Linked DNA regions of Homo sapiens: region 2 is linked to region 1. Evidence: fine-mapped expression QTL. A gene starts in region 1. The other region holds a variant in brackets. All regions are shown on one strand. Distances are from middle to middle.

What was found. PIP is the estimated chance that this variant, and not a neighbour inherited with it, causes the effect.
Region 2: its variant is fine-mapped to the expression of METTL16 in whole blood (TOPMed, PIP 0.91).

What each region holds. Positions count from the first base shown.
Region 1 is chr17:2,506,210-2,516,128 of GRCh38, forward strand. It overlaps METTL16 (methyltransferase 16, RNA N6-adenosine), which reads right to left and starts at 5,679. Exons shown (of 10, transcript NM_024086.4): 1 at 5,550-5,679. RefSeq lists enhancers at 1-646, 647-1,557, 5,550-5,759, 5,830-5,879.
Region 2 is chr17:2,413,127-2,423,045 of GRCh38, forward strand. It overlaps METTL16 (methyltransferase 16, RNA N6-adenosine), which reads right to left. Exons shown (of 10, transcript NM_024086.4): 9 at 7,605-7,778; 10 at 2,923-7,470. The coding sequence ends at 6,844. It overlaps LOC284009 (a long non-coding RNA gene), which reads right to left and starts at 2,310. Exons shown (of 3, transcript NR_028335.1): 1 at 2,062-2,310; 2 at 1,269-1,345. The variant T/C (reference allele first, on the strand shown) is at 3,650.

The DNA.
Region 1 (9,919 bases):
CCTAATCTCCCCAGTTAAGACAAATCCTCTCCCTCTCCCTCCCCCTCCCCCTCCCTCTCCCTCTCCCCACGGTCTCCCTCTCCCTCTCCCTCTCCCCCTCTTGCCACGGTCTCCCTCTGATGCCGAGCCGAAGCTGAACTGTGCTGCTGCCATCTCGGCTCACTGCAACCTCCCTGCCTGATTCTCCTGCCTCAGCCTGCCGAGTGCCTGCGATTGCAGGCGCACGCCGCCACGCCTGACTGGTTTTCGTATTTTTTTGGTGGAGACGGGGTTTCGCTGTGTTGGCCGGGCTGGTCTCCAGCTCCTAACCGCGAGTGATCCGCCAGCCTCGGCCTCCCAAGGTGCCGGGATGGCAGACGGAGTTGCGTTCACTCAGTGCTCAATGGTGCCCAGGCTGGAGTGCAGTGGCGTAATCGCGGCTCGCTACAACCTCCACCTCCCAGCTGCCTGCCTTGGCCCCGCAAAGTGCCGAGATTGCAGCCTCTGCCCAGCCGCCACCCCGTCTGGGAAGTGAGGAGCGTCTCTGCCTGGCCGCCCATCATCTGGGATGTGAGGAGCCTCTCTGCCTGGCTGCCCAGTCTGGAAAGTGAGGAGCGTCTCTGCCCGGCCGCCATCCCATCTAGGAAGTGAGGAGCGTCTCTGCCCGGCCGCCCATCATCTGAGATGTGGGGAGCGCCTCTGCCCTGCCGCCCCGTCTGGGATGTGAGGAGCATCTCTGCCCGGCCGCCCCGTCTGAGAAGTGAGGAGACCCTCTGCCTGGCAACCGCCCCGTCGGAGAAGTGAGGAGCCCCTCCGCCCGGCAGCCACCCCGTCTGGGAAGTGAGGATCGTCTCCACCCGGCAGCCACCCCGTCCGGGAGGGAGGTGGGGGTCAGCCCCCCGCCTGGCCAGCCGCCCCGTCCAGGAGGTGAGGGGCACCTCTGCCCGGCCGCCCCTACTGCGAAGTGAGGAGCCCCTCTGCCCGGCCAGCCGCCCCGTCCGGGAAGGAGGTGAGGGGGTCAGCCCCCCGCCCGGCCAGCCGCCCCGACCGGGAGGTGAGGGGCGCCTCTGCCCGGCCGCCTCTACTGGGAAGAGAGGAGCCCCTCTGCCCGGCCAGCCACCCCATCCAGGAGGGAGGTGGGGGGGTCAGCCCCCCACCCAGCCAGCCACCCCGTCCGGGAGGGAGGTGGGGGGGTCAGCCCCCAGCCCGGCCAGCCGCCCCATCCGGGAGGTGAGGGGTGCCTCTGCCCGGCCGCCCCTACTGGGAAGTGAGGAGCCCCTCTGCCCGGACAGCCGCCCTGTCCGGGAGGGAGGTGGGGGGGTCAGCCCCCCGCCCGGCCAGCCGCCCCATCCGGGAGGTGAGGGGCGCCTCTGCCCGGCCGCCCCTACTGGGAAGTGAGGAGCCCCTCTGCCCGGCCACCACCCCGTCTGGGTGGTGTACCCAACAGCTCATTGAGAATGGGCCATGATGACAATGGCGGTTTTGTGGAATAGAAAAGGGGGAAAGGTGGGGAAAAGATTGAGAAATCGGATGGTTGCCGTGGCTGTGTAGAAAGAGGTAGACATGGGAGACTTTTCATTTTGTTCTGTACTAAGAAAAATTCTTCTGCCTTGGGATCCTGTTGATCTGTGACCTTACCCCCAACCCTGTGCTCTCTGAAATATGTGCTGTGTCCACTCAGGGTTGAATGGATGAAGGGTGGTGCAAGATATGCTTTGTTAAACAGATGCTTGAAGGCAGCATGCTCCTTAAGAGTCATCACCACTCCCTAATCTCAAGTACCCAGGGACACAAACACTGCGGAAGGCCGCAGGGTTCTCTGCCTAGGAAAACCAGAGACCTTTGTTCACTTGTTTATCTGCTGACCTTCCCTCCACTATTGTCCTGTGACCCTGCCAAATCCCCCTCTGCGAGAAACACCCAAGAATGATCAATAAAAAAAAAAAAAAAGACAAATCCTCTATTATAACATCTCCTAGCAATAAATATTTTTCTTTTGCAATCTTTGTTAGAGACATAATTTTACATAGTCATAAATCTGTCAATGCTATTTCAGATGGTTTTTTGACAGCTTCCTACACTGGAAATTAAACCAATTTCAGAAAAGAACTGTTGTCTTCATTCCAGACTTTTCCAAATCACATATCCAACTGCCTACCATATTTCTCACTTGAAGGGCTCAAAAATACATGTACAATATGTGCAAAATTAAATCACTTCTACCCACCCCAAACTGGTCCTTCTCATCTTCCCTATCTCACCAAATGCACTGCTATCTTTCTTGTGATAAACACATCAAAAATCTTCAACACCTTCTCCATGCTGCCTCCCCCATTCACAACACACCAGGTCCTGAATACTCCATCTCCCAATTATTTCTTGACCTTATCCCACTTTTCACCCTTCACAACACCACCTCTCTGGCCCAGGTCATTATCATGTCTTTCTTGGGTTGCTCTAAGAGTCTCAAACTGATCTCTTCATAAACACTCTTGCCCTCTACCAGCCACTTTTCACTCAGCAGACAAGCCACTCCCCCCATGCAAATGTGAACATTTCCTTATTAAATCCCTTCAGTGGCATCCCAAAGCTATTAAGCTAAAAAAGTCTAAAATCATTAAAAAGGCAGGCATAATCCAGGCCTTATCTGTCCCTCCAACTTCATTTGTTGCCACTTTCCCCTTCCAGACATACTGGTCTTCTTCCATTTTCTCTGCTGCATGGTAGTCTGTCTCACCATCTCCTATTCTTACTGCCTGTAAGACTCTCCTCAACCTCCCACCATCGCCTTTCACCTCTGAAGGTCCACTAGCTACTCAAATCACACCCTAGGCATCATTTACTCAGGCAGCCTTTCTCTGACCCCACAATCCAATCAGATGCCCATCTACACGCTTTCAAAGCACCCTGTGCTGCTTCTCCCTCAGAGATCTTCAGTTTACTACTGGGTGTGTAATTAATTTGCATATGTCACACATAGACCTGCAACCATATCCATCCTAGTCTTTACTATACCCCCAGCAACCTGTATACAATAAATATTTTTTGAGTAAACAATTCAGAATTTGAGGGGATTAGTAGTCACCTGAAAGTTTTTCAGCATACTGTTACTACATTTTGCCCCTCACACTATGACTAAAAATGACTATATACCTGTCTTAATTTCCTAGCATTGACATACCCTTTACTGACCATCAGGAAAGAGGGGAGCATAAAACTAGGATGGCCCCCAGTTCTCAAGAAAACATCAACTGGGCAAGGTGGTGCATGCCTGTGTTCCTAGCTACTAGGGATGCCAAGGATAGCTTGAGCCCAGGAGTTCCAGTCCAGCCTGGGCCACACAGTGAGACCCTGTCTCAAAATAAACAAATACAAATAATAGACTTTATTAAAAAGAAAATATCCAAAATTAAAGTGTTGGCCGGGCACAGTCGCTCACGACTATAATCCCAACACTTTCGGAGGCCAAGACTGGAGGATCACCTGAGGTCAGGAGTTTGTGAGACCAGCCTGGCCAACATGGAGACCATCCTGGCCAACATAGTGAAACCCTATCTCTACTAAAAATACAAAAATTAGCTGGGTGTGGTGGCATGTGCCTGAAGTCCCAGCTACTTGGGAGGCTGAGGCAGGAGAATCACTTGAATTCAGGAGGCCGAAGTTGCAGTGAGCCAAGATCACGCCACTGCACTCCAGCCTGGTGACAGAGCAACACTCCGTCTCAAAAAAAAAAAAAAAATTAGCTGGGCGTGGTGGTGGGTGCCTGTAATCCCAGCTACTCGGGAGGCTGAGGCAGGAGAATCACTTGAACCCAGGAGGTGGAGGTTGCAGTGAGCCAAGATCGTGCTACTGCACTCCAGCCTTGGTGACAGTGAAACTGTCTCAAAAAAAAAAAAGAAAAAGAAAATGTTCTTTCTTGTGATTCTGGCAAGCAACAAAAAAAAGTAAACTAAGAGTAATTTCTTTAAACTGATGGAAAATATTTTCCCAATTTATGGGGGACATGTGACATTTATGCGGTATTTGTTCCACGCATAGAATGTGTGCTGATCAAGTCAGAGTATATGGGGTATTCACCACTTTGAGTATTTTTTATATCTATGTATTGGTAACATTTCAAGCCCTCTCCTAGCTATTTTGAAATATACATTGTTGCTGACTTTAGTCACCATATCCTAACAGTGACTTCAAGAGACAGTGGCATGTTAGGGCTCTGCCACACATTAAGGAAAATTCTACAGACTACATAGCTGACATCAGTGCACACACAACATAATACTCTGAATATATGTGAAACAAATTAAATTACAGACATGGCAGATTCGATTCATTTCCTACATTATTCAACTTTTCTGGTCAGAACAGATACAGAATGAGTAAATACAACCACTTCTTTTCTAACTAACCTCCCAATATAGGCAATGAGTTCTTAGCTAAATATAACCTATTCTTCAGAGTTTAACTGGGCATCAATTCTTTTTTTTTTCTTCTTGTTGAGACAAGGTCTTCCATTCTGTTGCCCAGAGTGCAATGATGGAATCATAGCTCCCTGCAGCCTCCAACTCCTGAGATCAAGCAATCCTCCCGCCTGAGCCTCCCAAGCAGCTGGGACTACAGGTACAGAGCACTGCACCTGGTTAATTTACTTCATTTTTTGTAGAAAGGGAGTCTGGCTTTGCTACCCAGGCTCTAGCTTCAATTTTCTACACAGAATTTACCCATCTGGCATTCCATATATTTTACTTACTTTAAAAAATCTCCCGTCAGTAAGTTTCAAGAGGGTAAATATTTTGTCTGTCTTGTTCACCGCATATCCCAACGCCTAAAATAGGGCCTAAGAGAGTAGGCACTCAAGTATTTGTTGATTGAAACCACGATAGAACTCTTCCCTGTCTGGACCACCGACACAAAGCACCCTCACTGAGTTTCAAAAAAAGCTCAGCCCATGGACTGGAACTTTTCTTCCCGGTTACTTGAGTCAGTCCAGAAAGCCACAGTTAATAGTAGAACCCTGAGAATGAGGCTTTCCCTTTTTTTTTTTTTCTTTCTCATCTCCATGCTTCTGTTTCCTTGGTTCCTCTTGACCATTAACCCTCTTCAACTACCACTCTCTTGATACACAGCCTGTAAAACAGTCTAAATTCCAATTTCAGAACTTCAAATTCTTTCTGCACAGATCCCTCCCACTTCCACACCAATCTACATCTTCTCTCTTCGCCTTCTCTCATAAATCCGACGTTTCCCACTAGTCCTGCCACTGCCGTTCTTTCCATGCCCTCATTTTATCAGCTCAGTTTGTCTTCCCGCCTCAGTTTTGGATCTCTCTAAACCTCCTAAACACCGGGGAGTCTTTCCTACTTCAGTCCTAGTCTCTATTCTATTCGCCAACTCCTCCCACTCATCCACTCTCAACACCCCCGCGTGCGCACACACAGCCACATCAGGTCTCCCCTCCTAGACCCCGAAGTCGGCACCTCACTAGCCCAAAACTCAAGAATGAGGAACCCGTGTGATCCACGGGTTAAGTGACCCATGATAGTAAATCTGCGTGAGAGATATAAGTGACCCACCTCTGAGGCCGAGGTTCCTGCCAGACGTCGTGTCTGGCGTGGGCCTGTACAACCCTAGAATCTTAAAGCAGCCGCATAGCGAAGCTCCTAGAAACGCAGATGATACGCTCCCAGCGCGCCGCCATCTTGTGAAGCCATCTAGCCTCGTGATTGGACACATCCCTCTCGCGCGACCTGTGGCTGATCTTGAAGAAAGAAGAAACCCTCGCGACACCTGGGGTTTGCTGCTCCTAACAGAAGGCGCGGGGGCGTGGTGACGAGCGGAGTCCTTTGAGGTATGGCAGGAGGAGGACATGCGTTCGAATTCGCGAGAAAACTTATTTAAAAGAAAAAGAAACAAGTTTTCCGGGCCCTGCTGCAGACTTACCTCTCACACTCACTGGGATTGGGCAGGTTATGAAGATGAGGGTACGAGACTTGGGTGTGATGGCGTGCAGTGAGCCCTTTTTGTGCAACAGGTGTGTCCTCAGCCGATGTCTCACTCACTGAATTGTAAGAGATATAAGCCTGTGGGTTGGGGAAGAGTACTCTCGTTTACAGCGAAAGAACTGAGGATCCGGCCGGACGCGGCGGCTCACGCTTGTAATCCCAGCACTTTGGGAGGCTGAGGCGGGCAGATCACCTGAGGTCAGGAGTTCAAGACCAGCCTGGACAACATGGTGAAACCCCGTCTCTACTAAAAATACAAAAATTAGCCGGGCGTGGTGGCGGGCGCCTGTAATCCCAGCTACTCGGGAGGCTGAGGCAGGAGAATCGCTTGAATCCGGGAAGCGGAGGTTGCAGTGAGCCAAGATCGCACCACTGCACTCCAGCCTGAGCGAAAGAGCAAGACTCTGTCTCAAAAAAAAAAAAAAAAGGGGGGGCCTGCCTACGTCCTCGTCGTTAATGTGAACGCTTCTGGCAAACTATTACCATAAAATTGGGAGATAGTAAGGATTAAGGAATGGAGACTTATACACAAGTGAGTACCAGTAGTCACCCAAGGAAAGCTGAGGAGGTGTTTTCATAATCTGTTGTGTAACAAACCGCCCCAAAACGTAAGACTTAAAACAACCACCATTTTACTTGCTCACAGTTCTGCAATCTGGGCTGGGATTAGCCCACCCGTTCTGCTGGTCTTGCCAGTGGTCATAGCAACAAGTGGGGGCTGGTTCCGCTGAAAGAACTGGGTCTCTCTCCCTGTAGTCCAAGTTCTCTCCCTGTCCACGTGGCCTTTCCATGTAATTTGTCTAGCAGAGTAGGATGACATTTTTTTTTTCCCCCGAGATGGAGTTTCTTATTGCCCAGGCTGGAGTGCAATGGCGCCATCTCGGCTCACTGCATGCAACCTCTGCCTCCTGGGTTCAAGCGATTTTCTTGCCTCAGCCTCCCAAGTAGCTGAGTAGCTGAGATTACAGGCGCCCGCCACCATGCCCAGCTAATTTTTTGTATTTTTAGTAGAGACGGGGTTTCATCCTGTTGGCCAGGCTGGTCTCAAACTCCTGACCTCAGATGATCCACCCGCCTCGGCCTCCCAAAGTACTGAGATTACAGGCATGAGCCATCGTGCCCCGCCAGAATACTTCTTACATGTTGGCTCGGGGCTCCCAAAAGGGCAAAAGTGGAAGCTGCCAGGCCTTCTTAAAGCGTAGGTGCAGAACTAGCACCTTGGCTATATTCTTGGTTAAAGCAAGTAGAAGGGCTAGCCCCAATTCAAGGGGAGGGGACTATGCCAGGGTCCCTTCCAATACTGGAAGGCATGGTTCATTTCAGCAACCAATGTAACATATTACCACAGAAAGTTTTCCATCTTTGGTTGGTAGTGGCTTTGATACTAGTTATGGCATTTTATTTAGTGCATGCTGCTGGAAAGGTAAAAGAAAAGATGGCCTCGGAGATAGGACTGGTGGGGTTGAAGTGATTGTATTTAAGATATTGGTAACTTTCTGTTAGCTCCAAAGAGCAACCCAGTTTACCTGTAGGTCGGGCCAGAGAGACCCTAGTAGCACTGCAGCTGGGAAACCTGGCCTTTAATCCTGCCCCCACCATTTACTAACCCTGTGAGTATGGGCAATTTGCTTAAACACTTGAAGGCTTAGTTTGCTCAATATTACAAAATAGGATAATAATCTCATGGGGTTGTGAGAATTAAATCAGATAATGCATATAAAACAGCAGAATGTCTAGTATATAGTGAGTTCCTAATAATAATAATATTGTTCCTTATAACTTCTCTGGTCAGTTTTTTTTAAGTATTCCATAAAGATAAAACATTTTAATAACTGAAAATTTTTAAATAATTTAAATAATACATAAAGATATCAGAAAGACAAAAATTATCTAAAATCTCACCACTCACAGCCAAGCACCATCAAATTTGGGTAACCTTACTACTAAACCTCTATATCTCATAAGGATATATAACCAAATAATTTTTATACAAATAATAATATATATTTGTATATATATGTAATTACATATATATACACACACACACATGCACATATACTCAAATATAACTCTTGGAGATTCTTCCACTTCCAACAATATAGCTCTTTATTGTTCTTTGTGATAGGTGCACAGTATTCCATTGAATGCATATAACACTTTTTTTTTTTTTTTTGAGACAGAGTCTCTCTGTCGCCCAGGCTGGAGTGCAGTGGCGTGATCTCGGCTCACTGCAACCTCCACCTCCTAGGTTCAAGCGATTCTTCTGCCTCAGCCTCCCGAGTAGCTGGGATTACAGGTGCCCACCACCACGCCTGGCTAATTTTTTTGTATTTTTAGTAGAGACAGGGTTTCACCATGTTGGCCAGGTTGGTCTCGAACTCCTGACTTCGTGATCCACTCGCCTCGGCCTCCCAGAGGGCTGGGATTATAGGCCTGGGCCACCGCACCCAGCTGGATATACCACTTTTTAAAAAACTAATTCGTGCCCAGGTTGGGTTGGCCAGACCTATAATCCCAGCACTCTGAGAGGCGAAGGCAGGTGGGTCACTTGAGGTCAGGAGTTTGAGACCAGCCTGGCCAACATAGTCAAACCCCGTCTCCATTAAAAATACAAAAATTAGCTGGGCGTGGTGGCGGGCACCTGCAATCCCAGCTACTCGGGAGGCTGAGGCAGGAAAATCGCTTAAACCCGGGAGGCAGAGGTTGCAGTGAGCCGAGATCGCGCCATTGCACTCCAGCCTGGGCAACAGAGTAAGACTCCATCTCAAAAACAAACAAACAAACAAACAAACAAACAACAACAAAAAAAAAACTAATTCCCCTGTGGATGGACATAGGTTCTTTCCAATGTATCTGGTATGACCTATTCCCAAATATTGTGGTACAATGATAAATACATATCCTTGAAAACTTTTTTATATAAAATGAAAATTATCTGGAGACTCCACAGAATAGATTAACAACATCTGCCTTTTTCCAAATTTACCCTGAAATGTCCAAGGATGTAATTGGTCAGAGAAGTCTCTCAAACTTCCATACCACAGCAAGGACAGTGCAGATGTCCAATTAGCCAGTTACATCCTTTGCTACCTCTTTGTAGCAGGAAACTGATTCTGCACATCCAGTGAATAATGCTGCTAATTATGAAATGTTGCCTAGCAAGTTATCAGAGCTGCTTTCAGCATCAGCTGCCTACTGGACTGGAATCAATCCTTGAGGGCATCAGACTGGACTCCCTCTTGACTGAAATTAATTATTTCAAGGACTTTGTGGCCCTTCCCTGTCACTGTCCTTTGGCCACAGCCAGCCTGTCAACAGCCACAGGTCTCTCTAACTTTGTATTTCAGAAAGTAATCATTGAGTATCAATTTCTTCTAGCTTAGAAGACTCTAGCTTCCTTATGTAAATGTATCCACCTCCTTCTTAGGGACCAAGTTTACATATCAGGGATCTAATAGCCATTATAGTTGTCACAAAAGCTATATCCAGGCAGGTGCAGTGGCTTACACCTGTAATCCCAGCACTTTCGGAGGCTGAGGAGGGTGGATCACCTGTGGTCATGAGTTCTAGACTAGCCTGGCCAACATGATGAAACCCCGTCTCTATTAAAAATACAAAAAATTAGTCAGGCGGGGTGGTAGATGGCTGTAATCCCAGCTACTTGGGAGGCTGAGGCAGGAGAATCACTTGAACCCAGGAGGCAGAGATTGCAGTGAACTGAGATCACGCCACTGCATTCCAGCCTGGGCAACAGCAAGAGTCCATGACAAAAAAAAAAAAAAAAAAAAAAAGATATCCTGTTACAGAACAATTATTTTTTCTCAGCTTACATTTACATAACTGAGAGAGCCACTGAAGTGATCCTCTGCACTAAGGATACCACATTTTCTTTTTCATTTCTTTACGGTTTTTGAGACAGGATCTCATTCTGTCACCCAGGC
Region 2 (9,919 bases), 93 kb before region 1:
AAACCTCTCTTTCATTATACAATTATGTATTGCCAAAGAATAATTCACCTAATAATCAGTTATTTCCTATTGATTCTGGTCCAACATGTACTTTAACTAGACATTTTATTTTGCGCTTTCACTAACTACATAATTACCTGCACTACTGCCAAATACAAAGTTCTGTGAAGATTTGGTAGCATAATTTTTTTTTCTCATTCTGTCCCCCAGGCTGGAGCACAGTGGCGCGATCTCGGCTCACTGCAACCTCCGCCACCCGGGTTCAAGCGATTCTCCTGCCTCAGCCTCCCGAGTAGCTGGGATTACAGGTGTGAGCCACCACGCCCGGCTAATTTTTGTATTTTTAGTAGAGACGGGTTTCACCATGTTGGCCAGGCTGGTCTCAAACTCCTGACCTCAGGTGATCCACCCGCCTCGGCCTCCCAAAGTGCTGGGATTACAGGCGTGAGCCACTGCATCTGGCCCCAACATGTACTTTCACTAGATATTTTATTTTGCGCTTTCACTAACTACTTAATTATCTGCACTACTGCCAAATACAAAGTTCCGTGAAGATTTGGTAGCATAAATGAAGAATTCTAAGTAATTCCACTGACTACATGTCACTCGTTCATCATAGGCTGGAAAATAATATTACCTTGAAGTGCTAAACTGTGAGGGTGAAAGATGCTTTTTTCCTTCCCCGTGTTGTATCACTGCAGCCCCCTCCCTAGAGGTGGGTCAGACGAGCCTGGAAGTACATTTCCACATGAAGTGCGGCACTTGCTATAGACTTTTGAGTTCCGGCACAAGATCCCAGTCTTGGCTTCTTGGACCTGAGTTCGAATCCCATTTCTATGACTGAGCTCCGTGGATAACCTTACAGCAAGTCACTGACACTCTCTGAGCTTCCCTTTCCTTCAGCCACCACCTAGGAACGTCACACAGGCTGACGGGGTTACTAAATGAGACAGTGTGTGTGGAAGGTGGACCATCAATATTGGCCCCCAGTCCTCCCTCCATCACATCAAGTATGGGTTTTGCTCTTTGTCAACGGTGGTACTTTACACCTACAGACATACACGTGAGGTCTCAGCCTTTTCATCTGAGTCTACTGGTAGAAGGTTTTCTGAATGGAAATGGACAATTCAAAGAATCGGAAGAGGAGCAAGTGTTTCCACCCTCTGCTGAGATTTCAGTCCTTCTTGCACTTAAGCACTGCTCTAAATGTGAAGCGACAATTCCTCATCTGTGGCACGAGGAAGACAAGGCTTAGTAAACGGACTTACCCTGTGCAAGGAATGGAACTGGACGGGAACCCAGGTCTGAACGTCGAAGTCTGTGCTCTTTCCTGCCTCTTGCTCCCCTAGGGTGGGTGGAAAAGAGTCTTGGGTTTACACCTGCCTGGCCCTCTCAGAGCACCATTTGCGAGCCAGTTCTGCCAAGTCCGACTGTACTTTTCCTCTACCCCTTCTCCTTTCAGTTCCCCTGTGAGGGAAGCACCCACAATCTTCCTCTTCCCTAAGGAAACCCACGCTTCTGCTTGGATTGAGACCGGCAGACAGGCTACATCTCAAAGGGCACCTCGAGGGGCAAGGGCGTTCTGTAGTCACAACACAGTCCGTGGAGTACAAAGCACAGCCTCCACCAGGCAGCATTAGCTGCTCCAACCAGGAATTTAAAACACCAACCGCTGTTTTAGTCATTTGGCTGAGCCACAGCAGAGCATGTGAATGTCACAGAACAGAGCAGGAACGCCGGGGCACGTGTGATGCCCATCATCAGTGGGGCAGGCGCCGTCCGGGCCTCTGATACTGCGCTGGCACTCATACCGAGAGCCGCGTACTCGGGATTACTAGAGAGGTTCGACACATCAGTGCTGCCCGCAGGAGGCAGGAGTCAGTTCATTCTATTCAGCCTCTTCTGGGTTTTACCGAGGTTAGTGCCCATTCAGCAAACCAAGTCTCCTGTGCACCAACTTCCCTAAAAAGGCCGTGACCCTTTCCTGAGGGGACCCCCTCTATCGCCATAAACCTGCTGCACCTTTGAAATGCTCCTTCTTCCAGAGGGCTCTTGACTTACTTTTCCCACCTGGCCCCTTCTCCTCCTATGTGCACAACTGCTGGGCGGCCACATCTGATCCTGTACCAGAAACATAAGGGGAGACGGGATCCTCCTTGAGCCCACACAGACCCCAGCGTTCTCCCCAGAAACGCCCCTTGTGAGAAGCAAGGCCGGCTAACCGACAGCATCTACACCACACAGAACCCTCACCTTCTGATATAAGCAACACACGACATGCATGGTAGCCAGCCAACCAGAGGAACCCCAAACAAGGGTCAACAACAGAACACTGAACCCAGCTGCTTTTTTTTTTTTTTTTTTTTTTTTTTTTTGAGACTGAGTCTTACTCTGTTGCCTGGGCTGGAGTGCAGTGGCACGATCTTGGCTCACTGCAACCTCTGCCTCCCGGGTTCAAGCGATTCTCCTACCTCAGCCTCCTGAGTAGCTGGGATTACAGGCATGCACCACCACGCCCAGCTCATTTTTGTATTTTTAGTAGAAACAGGGTTTCACCATGTTGGTCAGGCTGGTCTTGAACTCCTGACCTTGTGATCTGCCTGCCTCTGCCTCCCAAAGTGCTGGGATGACAGGCGTGAGCCACCGCACCCGGCCTTCTGAACCCAGCTGCTTTCTTGGAGATCTTGGTATTACTCCTGGCTTTTGGAAAGTTACTGTTTGAAGATCACTCAGCATTTCCCCTCCAGTATCTTCATTAACTAGATATCAAGAAAAACTGGATCCAAAGGACTGGCCCAACCTGGATATATTCTAGAGTAGAAGGACAGCTGGAAAGAACAGAAAAAACAGTCAGCTGGGACCATTAAAAAAACATTAAAAAGTCGAAAGGGATTATACCAGGTAAAGAGACCATGGCTAGTGTTTTTTTCTCTTTCTACTTTTATTTTTCAAATTTTATTTCTGTGAAAATGTATTTGTTTACATAAAAATACAAATCTGGGTAGCAACTGGGTATTTCAAGAAAACACCGTGGACAGACTTGTCTCCATTCCCACGGGGAAGTGAAGGCGCTTTGATAAAAGGGCCAAGGGTGCCCTCGTGTGGCCACGGAGGGAAATGCCGCGGCTTCAGCAGAAAGGAGGGGCTCCAGGAGCTGGTCGTGAAGTCATCAGCTCCCTTCTTTCAAAAGGCCTCGGATTTCCCACAGGCTTTTCCATCTTTTCCACTCCTTGCAGTTTTGTTATTCCTGTCACAACTTAGAAGTTCGAGTGCTCACATGGTAAGCTTTGATTTCCATCGAGAGGAAAGGCTTTATGTTTTATAAAAAATATATACTAAAGTAATCTACACGAAGCTTAGGATGAGTTGAAAGGGTACTGCCAAAACGCGGCCCTGCCCAGGACACACAGCAGAGGTCTGGAGTGGGGACAGTGCGGCCAGCATGTGTGGGGAAGGAAGCAGGCTGACGGAGGCAAAGCAGATTCCGAAGAACAAAAGCAGCTTTAGTTTGCCTGGGCAACAGGCTCAACTTCTGTCTCCACTTCAGTTATCAGGAGACCAGAAGCCGATTCTAGGGACCAGAAGAGAATGTAGGGTCACATCACCAAGATTTAATTTCATACCAACCCCGCAACATGAATGTGACCTC[T/C]GGACACCGGGAGAGTAACACTCAAGGTTATGACATATGAGTCAATAACCCATTTCTTCAAAGAAAAACTTGCCCACCTGTACCAGAGGTATATGCTATGAAACAACACACAATTATAAAGCATATGCATGACCAAAACAATGCTTAGATGTCCTTTAAAAATATTTTCAATGTTCTCTCACTAGGTAGCCTAAGAAAATCTTCTCAGGGAAGGAAATGGAAACATCCAAATGCACAGAAGGCACTCGGCTCCAGACTGAAAGCTGGCCTGCTCATGGGTTCCTTTTTTTTTTTTTTTTTTTTTTTTTTTGAGACAGTCCCACTTTGTCGCCCAGGCTGTAGTGCAGTGGCATTCTCGGCTCACTGCAACCTCCACCTCCCAGGTTCAAGCGAGTCTCCTGCCTCAGCCTCCCGAGTAGCTGGGATTACAGGCACGTGCTATCATGCCCGGCTAATTTTTGTATTTTGAGTAGAGACGGGGTTTCGCCATGTTGGCCAGGCTGGTCTCAAACTCCCGACCTCATGCGATGCGCCCATCTCAGCCTCACAGTGCTGGGATTACAGGCGTGAGCCACTGCGCCTGGCCACGGTCACGGATTTTTTAAAACTCTAAGGTCATTAGCTTGACATCTATAAAATCTCCTCCATGACATGAAGCCTTAAACCTAGGGACAGAAACACACTGAGACACAGAAACACCTTCTGTGCTTCAATACACAGAGCATTCTCTGGAAATCCCTACGACACAGGCTTAAAGGCCAGTGCTGTGCCTGAAAGACATTTTGAACAGGCAAGGAGTGTAAGCTAATACACTACTGTTACAACATGGACAAATACTTGTAAGATGTTAAATGAACAAAGGACCAGAATACAAAACTGAATACGCAGCATGAGGACAACCAAAGTTAAACCCACACACTCACACACCCCGTCTACAGAGAGACTAGAAAGGAACACGCCAATGCCAAGAGTGGTTATGTTACAGAAGGTTGGGACTCGGGGTGATTTTGTTGTTTTGACTTTCATTTTTCCAAATCTTTAATGAGCATGTGCCACTCTTTCATAATGAAACAAGCAAACAATAAGTACTTACTACTTACTGAATGAATAGTTGCCACTTAAACAATTATCCTAAAATTATACCAAGGAAACTAGGTTTGGGCCCAGCAAATGACTCAAATGTAATATTCACTCGAGGTAAGGACAGTGGGGTGGTGTGGGCTGGCACAGCAGAAAATTTCTAGACCAGGGGAATCCACGGTCCTGAATTGAGTCTTGGCTCTGTGTGACCCTGGGTATTGTTTTTTGCAGCCTGACACATGAATGCTTGGACTAGAATAATGATTCTTAATCCTTAGTGGGTTATTGACCCCTTTGTCTGTGTCTGAGGGTTCTGGGAACCCTCTCTCCAGGAAAAAAAATACACACACACACACACACACACACACATGCTCACAGAGCTTTTAGAAGTAACTCTAGGAGGTACATGGACTCTCTGGAGGTCCACGGACCAGGTTAAGAACACTGGTCAGAGGCTGGGAGTAGTGGCTCACGGCTGTAATCCCAGCACTTTGGGAGGCCAAGGTGGGCGGATCACCCGAGATCATGAGTTCGAGATTAGCCTGGCCAACATGGTGAAATCCCATCTCTACCAAAAACACAAAATTAGCCAGGCGTGGTGGCGCGTGCCTGTAATCCCAGCTACTTGGGAGGCTGAGGCAGGAGAATCGCTTGAACCCGGGAGGCGGGGGTTGCAGTGAGCTAAGATCGCACCACGGCACTCCAGCCTAGACAACAAGAGTAAAACTCCACCTCATAACAAACAATCAATCAAAAAGCCACTGGTCAGTATGCTGCCTTCTCCAGCTCCAGCTCCACAGCCAAGTTAAGGCACAGCAGTTCCGCTTCCTGTGTCTCTGCCGAGGGCCTGATCTAGCTGCTGCCAAGACATGCCAAGGTCACCAGCTTCCCGTCCTGACCAACAGCCACCTCTCAGAAGGCTGGCTTAACTACTCAGCCCCAGTCTTCTTAGCAGATGGCAAGGAGCTCTGGCCAAGATTTTAGTCTAAACAGAACCCTAGGCTGCTGATGCAACATCAAGCACAGCAAAAGGTCACCCCTTTCCGGGGGGACGGCTACTGAACCCTGGCATTCCAATTAGAAACGTGTTTCAAGGACACAGTTACTCCGGCCTCAGAACTCTCCAATGTGAGTAGGTAAGTACAGGGGGGATTACAAGTGAAGCCACAAAAAAACAGTATTTGATCAGCAACAAAATATCTGAGACTTTCTTAAGCTACCTACGGCACATACTATTTTGTTCTATTTCTCATTTCTATCATCAGCCGCTCACTCAGCTAACCCCAGGATTCAAATAGGACCGCTGGTTTTTAATTTGTGAATATTCTTATTTAAAAACAAAACAAGCTCTACTTCAGATGTCCAAACAAAAATCACACAGTAGTAAAACTGCTACAAAATGGTACTGTCAACAGGCTGGAGGTGGGGGTATGGGTGCCTTCTGTGTGCCTCAGTCACACCGGGGAGTTTTGCTTACCTAATTCTGCTTCTGAAATAAGCAACATCAAAACAGCCAGGTGTCAGGAATGTGCCATTTACCGGGTGGTCCCCAGACTCTGCTGCTCCTTCCCAGCATTACTAAGGTTTCTCTCCCAGATTCCCCACCACCCACCATACAGCTCCCTTTGTGGGATTGATGCAAGGTAGGCCCCATCTTGAAGAGTGACCTAGAACAGGGTACCAGGGCCTCCAGCTGGAGGCAGAGAGAGCCACCCCTCCTCAAGAAACACCCTTGGGTGACAGAGACAGCATGATATTCTAGGCAGTGCTGCCCAGCCCAGACTCCACAAACAACCCTTCTGACCTTGCAGAGGCAGTCCAGAGCTGAGGGGCCAGCTTGAGCCAGCTTGCAATCCCTCGGGAGTTTACTGAGGGCTTTCTGTTGTTACTGATGACCACAATTCCTCCTTGTAAATGACCACACTACGACTCCCTGTAACTCAAAAAGCGGGAAGGAGGCGGGGGGAGGTGGGGGACAGATTCATAGGTTTTTGTTTTCGAAGATAATTCCACATCGTGCTACTAATGGGCCGCTGGTAGGATTCCTCTTGCCACCCCACAGGCCACTCCAAAGCAAGTTACTATCAACACGTTTCCAACTGTGCAGGAGGTTTCTAGTTAACTGCAACAAGCCTGAAAATTTGGTTACGTATGTAGGTGCAAAGCTGGTTCATCAGATCCCTGTTCTGGCCCTCAACCCAGTGCATCTCCACTAAGGCATCGTCCACCTCCTTCTTAACGTTTATCAAACACTTAAACAGGTACTGTCCGGCCACTCCTGGGAGACGTTTCCCCCTTTCAGCCACTGGGCTGCCGAACTGCTCAGAAGCCTCTTGGTCCTGGGCTCCGTTGCTAGAGCCTTGACAACTTTCCAAAACCTCCACCCCTCCCTTTTCCTCACTCCTTTCATCCTCCGTGGGTTCCGGGTTTTCCTCCTGGGACAGGGACTCCTGGCTCGGGCACGGGCCCTCCACAGCGGCAGCCTCGCCTTCCCGCAGAGCAGGCCCACAGGGGGTCCTCTCCTGGGGGCCCCTGGCCAGTTCTTGGCTATTGCCAGACTCTTTGGGGGTGGGCTTTTTCTCTTCCAAGGCCTGAATGACGTCCTCAGGAGCTCGGGGAACTTCTCTCAGCTGTCTCACACGCTCTCTTTTCTTTCTCCTTAAATGAATCCAGGAGTTTTCTATGGCCGTTAGGAAAAGGCTGACTTCCTCTTTTCCACAGGGAACTCGTTTATGCTGGACCTGTTTGGAGGAAAAACAGAATTTTGTGGGAAATCACGTTTCCCCTCTCTCCAAACTCTCAATAAAAAAAAAAAGAAAAAAGAAAAAAGAGAAGGATCATTATGAGTACTTCGTCAATATGGTTAAGCAGGTACCTTCAAATCAGTGAGAATTTTTTCAATCCATGTCGTGACAACGACTATGCCTTCCGCCGTCTCCGAGCGCAGAGGTGATGCTTTGAGGGATAATTCCTTCATCACGGACGCCAGCACCACGAATGTTATGGGTTTTCTCGGTTTCTCTAATTTTCTTCGCTTACTTGGTGGTGACTGCAAGAAAAAGGAAGCATAGAAAAGAGAAGAAAGTTATCCGAATAATTAAACCTCATGCATTGTAATGAACTCAGAGAAAATTTCCACAACTTCTGCTACCAATCATAGAGCACTGAAAACACAAAGGGTTTTGTGTGTGTTATGTCCAGCACTTAAAACAACCCTGCAAGGTGCAGTCATTCACGCCTATAATCCCAGCACTTTGGGGGGCCATGGCAGGAGCATCACTTGAGCCCAGGAGTTTGAGATCAGCCCCAGCAACATAGTAAGACCTCCATCTCTAAAAAAACGTTTAAAACTAGTCAGCCACAATGGTGTATGCCTGTGGTCCCGGCTACTCTGAAAGCAGAGGAGGGAGGATCATTTGAGCCCAAGACTTCCAGGCTGCAGGGAGCTCTGATTGCGCCACCGCAATCTAGCCCAGGAAACGGGGTGAGACCCTGTCTCTTAAGAAAAAAAAAATTTTTAATTAAAAAAATAAGAACCCCACAAGATAGTTTAGGCATCTCCAGGAAAACGAAGATACAGAAAGGCTATGTCACACAGCTCAAGGTCACACAGTAACTGCAGTTAGGACTGAACGCCGAACCCACGTTCTTTCCAGCCGCACCGCACTGCCTTTGTTCTGGCTATCAGATGTAACTCCTCCAACTGCTAAACGTCCTTCGTGTACCTGTGGTACCCAAAGCAGACCTGCACAATTATTTATTTCATGACAACTCGAGGACCCTGGGGGCACTGTGTTCTTGGCTGGAAAGAACTGCAGGGCAGAAACATCATCAACTTGTAGTTTGAGTTTATATTGGCTGAGGCTTGAGATAAAGCAGCCGGTGAACCACAGCCATGAGATGACATGCGAGGAAGGATCAGGGCCACTAAGATCACGTGGGCAGAGGAGGAGGACTCCTGAATCGTGGCTGATGTCGGGACCAAGCCGGCGGCGAGCTAAGCACTGCCTTTTAGCTGGGGAGGGTGACACCGGCGCTGATGAGAAGACTGGATTTCAAAGCTGGTTCCAAGAAAATCACGACTGGCATCTTCCATTCTATCTCAAGCTGGGAAGGTGAATTATACCCTACCCACTAGAGGGACTCAAGTTCCACTTTAAAAACCAATGGCACCTGCCGGGCGCGGTGGCTCATGCTTGTAATCCTAGCACTCTGGGAGGCCGAAGCAGGCAGATCACTTGAGGTCAGGAGTTCAAGACCATCCTGGCCCACATGGTGAAACCCCGTCTCTACCAAAAATACAAAAATTAGCTGGGCATGGGGGCACGCACCTATAATCCCAGCTACTCGGGAGGCTGAGGCAGAAGAATTGCTTGAACCCAGGAGCCAAAGGTTGCAGTGAGCCAAAGGTTGCAGTGAGCCGAGATTGTGCCACTGCACTCCAGTCTGGGCCTGGGCAACAAGAGTGAAACTCCGTTTTAGAAAAAAAAAAAAACAAAACCAATGCCACCACTGTATTGAAAATTTATTTATTCATTTATTTATTTTTGAGATGGAATCTCACTCTGTCACTGGAGTGCAATGGCGCCATCTCGGCTCACTGCAACCTCCACCTCCGGTTTCAAGCGATTCTCCTGCCTCAGCCTCCCAAGTACCTGGGACTACGTCACCAAGCCCAGCCAATTTTTGTATTTTTAGTAGAGACGGGGTTTCACCATGTTGGCCAGGATGGTCTCGATCTCTTGACCTCGTGATCCACCCACCTCGGCCTCTCAAAGTGCTGGGATTACAAGTGTGAGCCACCGTGTCCAGCCTGAGAATTTCTTTCTTTAAAGTAGAAACTTTAGGCTGGGTGTGGTGGCTTATGCCTGTAATCCCAGCACTTTCGGAGGCCGAGGCGGCCGGATGGATTGAGCTCAGGAGTTTGAGACCAGCCTGGCCAACATGGTGAAACCCCATCTCTAGTAAAAATACAAAAATTAGCCGGGTGTGGTGGCCGCGCCTGTAATTCCAGCTACTCGGGAGGCTGAGGCAGGAGAATCACTTGAACCCAGGAGGTGCAGGTTGCAGTGAGATGAGATTGCGCCACTGCACTCCAGCCTGGAGACAGAAGGAGACTGTGTCTCAAAAACAACAACAACAAAAAGGATAAAAAAGAAAAAACACCAAGTCAGGTTTGAAGATCTTTTT